Linked DNA regions of Homo sapiens: region 1 is linked to region 2. The links come from fine-mapping of genetic effects on gene expression. A gene starts in region 2. The other region holds a variant in brackets. All regions are shown on one strand. Distances are from middle to middle. Region 1 holds the start of KRABD1 (KRAB domain containing 1). Region 2 holds the start of ZNF662 (zinc finger protein 662).

Region 1 (2,908 bases), 29 kb after region 2:
GGGATGGTTTGCTAAAGGAGATTTTCTCAATGTTTGCACCACTCTTACCTTTAGGCCTTCCCTTCATTCCTGTACCTCAGAGAGGGGTCTTTCTCCATGTTTTTATCCTTCTTTTAGCAGTAGATTGCTGTTCTTATTGACTCAGCATTTGATATTTTGGTGGTGGTAGAAGGGATGGCATTTTCTGTTGTGATTCAGCTTTAATCTTAGGTAGGCACTGTGTCTCTGAGACTTAAGGGTGGGGTCTATTAAGTGATGTTGCCCTATCCTCAGCTGTAGGACACCTCCATGGTCTGGAACCAGGATGCAATTCTACCGCTATTTCGTGAATGGAGAGCTTTTTGTTCTCTTTATTCCCTTCAGTTCCACTGGATCTTAACCAGTCCCTAAGGGTGACAAGATTTGCTTTTTCATCCTCAGAGGCTTAGGGCTTTTGTTCTGTAGGGGAAATAGGAGAGAAGGACCTGGATGGGGATTCATGTCTTTTCTAGCGGGAAGGTTTTCATAAGATTCTTCTTGCCTTACCTTCAATTGTATGTGTGTATGTGTGTGTGCACACATTTGATGATGTCCATAGAGAAGAATATACAAGTGGGTGGAAATTCTGCTTGTGTCTGTGGTTCACAGGAGTTCTGTAGTCTCTATATTCTCAGGCTAGCCAACACTTGGACCTCAGCAACTCATTAAACATTTTAGCTGATTTCTCCTTAACAGCTTACATGGCATCCAATGGCATCTGTCCTATGTAAACAAGTGCTTACAACCATCTCTTCTTGAAAGTGCCTGTCTTACATCAGATTTTAGATTAAGTCGTTTGCCCCCAGATCTTAGCTTTCTGATGTGTTCAAGAGAAAATTTTAGATTATCTGGCTGTTTTTTGTTGTTGTAAGGGTGAGGCCATGCACTTTTCAGTTTTCTACATCGTGAGAAGGTGAATTTCTTGATTTTTCAAAAAGAATCACACTTTTAAAAACCCTGAAAAATAAAGAAAAGAGACTGAGCTACCAGAACGGCAGTGACTTTGGGTGGCTCTCACTTATGCCAGGCACAGGGTGAATTCAGGGCTCTGGGCTATGAGGGGTCGACTGCAAACCCCTGCAGCAGATGTGAGCTGCATGTGTGGGCCCCTGTGTCAGCCTGTGCTCATTTGTCTTCCTACAGTGATACTGCATGTGATACACAACACCCAAGGACAATGGAGGTGGGGGCAAATGTCCCTTATTCTTCACACCCTTCGCTGTTGGCATCAAAGCAGTTACTCTACCTTCTCCACAGGCTTTGGCACAGCATGTCAGGAAGTTCTCTGGGGTGGCCACACCTATTTCCTCTAAGTGCTTTCAACAGGTTTTTCATCATGATAGGTATCCTTTCTTACCTCTGATTGATGTAGTCATGCTGTTTTCCTGGGACAGTGTTAAGCTCTGCTGGACAGGGGATGAATATTTCTTGGGTAAACTGACTGCTCTCACTTTGCCCATGGTCCATTGCTAATCCTCTCTGCTAGTGGTAATGTATGGAAGTGAGAGGCGTCAGCAACATTGAAAGACATCACATTCTAGGAG[T/C]GCAATCATTACAGCAATTCAAGAGAAGTCCTGGTTGTATAATGTGTGATTCGTTCATTATGCTATAACAATCCAAATGCTAAATTTAACAAGATCAATAAAACGTATAACCATTCACATTTTCTTGCATATTCTGGGTAAGACTTGTAGTTGCAGTTATTGTAGCACAGTAATAAAGGCACTGGAAGCCAGTATTCAAGGTTGGTACGATGATGCAGCGTCATGAGCAAGGTGCCTCAACTCAGAACTGGGCTCTGGAGGAACGCCAAGAGCCTATCTCGCCAGCGTGCCCTTTTCCTCACGGGAATTAGGAGGGAAGCACCAAGATGTGGGGTCCTCCACGAGTCCTAGAGAGAAATCCAGAGAGTGTATGGGTTCACCAGTCAGTGTGATGACGCACTTCCGGGGCCGCCTTCGTTTTTGTCGCGCGAGGTTTTGGTTTGTGAGGATCGGCGAGTGGCGCCCACCATCTCTGCTTGCTGAAAAGCTGCAGAGGCCGCCAGGAGCCCACGGTGAGCGGGTCTGAGGAGGACGGGAAACAGCCCCGAGGGAGGCGGGTGTGGCTACTGCTGGTACTGGGGTCCTCATGCCGATCCCCGAGCTTGGCTCTGTAGCGTCGAGATGCGGCGCTGGCAGAGGCCTGGAACGCTGGCCGCAGGCTCCCACCCCCCTCGTTTCCCTGTACCCAGGGCAGCCTGTGGCCCACTCAGAGTCGGATACTGACACACATTCGCATGTTAACTTCGAAGCCCACAAAAAGTTTTAACTGTCCACACTCCAGAATCTTCTATCAACAGAACATGCCCCTCGGTCGCTCCAGCCCCCTTGTCTTTGACCCGGATGCGGAAACCCCAACCCTACCCCTCAGCTTGTCAGTTTCCACGTTTTCAGTTGGTCCCTGAAAATCAGTTGGTGATCAGTTATTTTCGCCTGCCATAGTGTACACCAGTCTTGAAACTTGTTACTGTCGTAGAGCAACCAAAAATTTGAGAATACCGAATTGTATTCCCTACCCGTCCCCAGGATGTCCCATTTTGGAAAATATGGAGCCCTGCGATCTGGATTGGCTCATAAGAATGTTAAATCTAAAAAGACTGATCGTATCCGTCATGCACCTAATGTGTGTCCAGTGTTTAACATAGTTTCCTATGTACAGGATTGGAGATGTCGAAAGATTTCTTGACCTCTTAACATTGTTCATTATATTCTTTTCTTTAGATTCTCTGAACTTTTACTCCACTGTCATAATTTAATTGTCAAGGTTCATAGGATAACATTCGATGTCCCTGCCATTAGTCAACTATGTTGGGAGTGTGATTTGTTCTCCAATGTGGCTTGTTATTTAT
Region 2 (2,908 bases):
CTTTCTTCAACTGAAAAACTGGTTCAACATTTATTCATTCTTTTATTCCGTAAGCCAAAAATAAAATTCAAAGCCCTCTGACCATATGAATGGATCTCTCCTCTTGGCTAAGGGCATTCCAAAGTTAACGTGAAAAACTGGTTCAGGCCATAATGGGAAGGAGGAGTTGGACATGGCTCATTATGCTCCCCTACCTTTTGAAATTCAGGACCAGCTGACCAGCATTAACATCAACACAGACCTTAAGACTGATAGAACAGCCTCTTTAAGTCTCACAGACTATCCGGTAGTGTGATAATGATGAGAAACATTTGCAGTCTATTCTCTGAAGCCTGCTACAGGCTCCATCTGCATGATAAAACTTTGGTCTCCACAAGCCCTTATCTTAACTGAGACATCCCTTTCTATTGATTCTAAGTCTTTATACAATAACTTAACTCTTTCAACCAATTGCCACTCAGAAAATCTTTGAATCCACCTATGTCCTGAAAGCCTCCTCTTCCAGTTGTCCCACCTTTCCATACCGAACCAACGTACATCTTACATGTATTAATTGATGTCTTATGTCTTCCTAAAATGTGTAAAACCAAGTTGTAGCCCGACCACGTTGGGCACATGTTCTCAGGATCTCCTGGGGCTGTGGCACGGGCCATGGTCACTCATATTTGGCTCAGGATAAATCCCTTCAAATATTTTACAGTTTGACTTTTCGTGGACAATTCTACAAATATTCCTTGGCAGTTAAAGAAATAACTCCCCAGGAGGTGCTAGACATCGGGCGCATGTTAGAGGCACAAAGATGAGAATGTTAAAAGACATAAAATACAGGTCTGCTCTGGGAATGCAAAAACTGGTAAAAGGAGAGATAAAAGAGCAGGTGCAGTCTAGTGAAGTACCCGCTACCTCCTATCAGCAAATATCTGTCCACCTAGGGTGCAGCGAGCTGGAGAGGAAGGGGTGGCCTAGAGCGCAGGGGAAGGATTCCTCCCCAGCCGCCTGCACCCCTACCCCGGTAGCGGTCCCTGGGATCGTCCGTGTCTCCAGGAGAACCGGACCGCTCTCCCCTCCCTCCCCGAGCGAGAAAGGAGGACCACAGAGATGCGGCGCCCTCCGCCGTCCTAGAGCAACCGGAGCGGCCCGAGCCCCGGCCTCCCGGATGCTGGGGCCTGGCGGGTGTGGAGCACGGGGAGTCGGGCGTGGGGCGGGCAGGGAGTGGAGTCGGGGTCTTACTCCGGTGGCTGCAGGGCGCAGGGTAGCCGTGTCAGGCCTGCCCAGGTGCAGAGCGCTCTTCCGCGACCCCAACAGCCTCTGGTCCGGTCTGGCGCGCCCTCGCTTTCCCAGAGGGCGACCTGGGCTATGGCGGCCGTGGCGCTGGCGAGCGGGACACGCCTCGGCCTTGTCCTCGAGCTGCTCCCGGGACAGCCCGCGCTGCCCCGGGCGCGCCGGGTGAGTGCGGGGCCGGAGCCTGGAAGCAGTCTTGGCCCTGCCCTGGGTTCTAGGCCCGGAGACGGGGTGGTGCGGCGGCTGGGAAATGGGGGTACAACCCAGAGTGAGGGGCCTCGAGGGACAGGCAGCACAGCGGAGTCGACACCCCTGGACCTGAGCCTCAAGGAGAGCAGACGTGCAGCGGCACGGGGTTGAGCCGACTGCTGGGGCAGAGCGCACAGAGTGCTGTCGGGGGCGATGAATGGCCAGAATTTCAGAGCTGCCTTTACAGAGCTGGTTATGTTTGAGCTGGGTATTAGGTTGAAAAGGAATTTGCAATGCAGGAGCAGGAAGGAAGAACTGGATATTCAGGCAAGAGTAGCCGCAGGTGCAAGGACACAGAACAGGGTGAGGAAAGAGTTTGGTTTCCCAATGCAATGGTGAGAGGATCGGAGATGAGAGTGGTGGTGGCTGATGATCCTGGCCAGGAAAGCTGGGTCTGTGAGTAGTGAATGGAATTGTCTGTAGTGCAGAGGAATGTGGACTCTATTAGGCAGACAAAGTTGAGCCAGCCAAAGCCTTGGAGCCCTGGAGTGCTGGATAAATAGCTGTGGAGACTTTCTAGTGCGCAAGGACTGAAGTGCAGTGGACCAGAATGGGCTCCTCCACAGTGTGGAGACTGAGACCCTGAAGGAGGCAGTGGCTGAGAATTACGGGAAGTCCCAACGGCTGGAGGTCAGCAGTATTTGTTTCTTAAGAGGATGAGAGAAAGAAGGTGCAGGAGCTGAGACTCCTAGAGATATAGAAAATGGGGACATGGAGATTGGGACGTGGGTAAGCAAGTGAGGTGGGATCTTTGTGAGAGTGTTGCGGGTGGTGGGGGTGCAGGGAGTAAAGTCACAACGAGGATCTGCCCTGTTGAGTACAGTGTTCAGAGCAACCTGAATGTTCTGAGGAGCCCTAGCTGCCTCTGTGGCTGGTGGCAGTGACTGGGGAGGACAAAGGAGGAAGAGTCCTATACAGGGGCAGCAGGGATGGCAGGAATGGGGACGGAAGGCAGTGTGGCATAACAGGCAAGAGCCAGAGTCAAACAGGCCTGGGTTCTGTCTCAGTTCTGGAACTTTGGGGGAAGTTAATCCCTCCGAGTCTCAGTTTCCTCTTCTAAAAAACGGATCTGATAGTAGGCTATGAGACATAACAAAGAATATATGTCAAGTGCTTGGCACAGGCTTAATAAATGATAGTTGTTATCAAGGGTGGGTGACCTCTGAAGGAGGACACATTGTGGAGAGAGGATGGGACCTAGAGCACAGATGTGGTTTGGGGTATAAGGATGAAACAAGAAAACTTTTGCAGACTCATGAAAAAGAGGAGAAAATGTTTGCTGAAATAAAGATGAAGAGACATGAGAAAATTGATGGCTGATGCCTTGTCTCTTTGTACATAGGAGGCAAAAATCTTCTGCTGATAGAGTTCCTGTAGA

What was found. PIP is the estimated chance that this variant, and not a neighbour inherited with it, causes the effect.
Region 1: its variant is the best candidate, but not a certain one, in a credible set for the expression of ZNF662 in whole blood (TOPMed, PIP 0.86).

Annotation. Positions count from the first base shown.
Region 1 is chr3:42,934,382-42,937,289 of GRCh38, forward strand. It overlaps KRABD1 (KRAB domain containing 1), which reads left to right and starts at 2,005. Exons shown (of 5, transcript NM_001205272.2): 1 at 2,005-2,074. It overlaps KRABD1-AS1 (KRABD1 antisense RNA 1), which reads right to left and starts at 2,404. Exons shown (of 2, transcript NR_122033.1): 1 at 1,376-2,404; 2 at 1-975. The variant T/C (reference allele first, on the strand shown) is at 1,563.
Region 2 is chr3:42,904,996-42,907,903 of GRCh38, forward strand. ZNF662 (zinc finger protein 662) reads left to right here and starts at 1,147. Exons shown (of 5, transcript NM_207404.4): 1 at 1,147-1,173.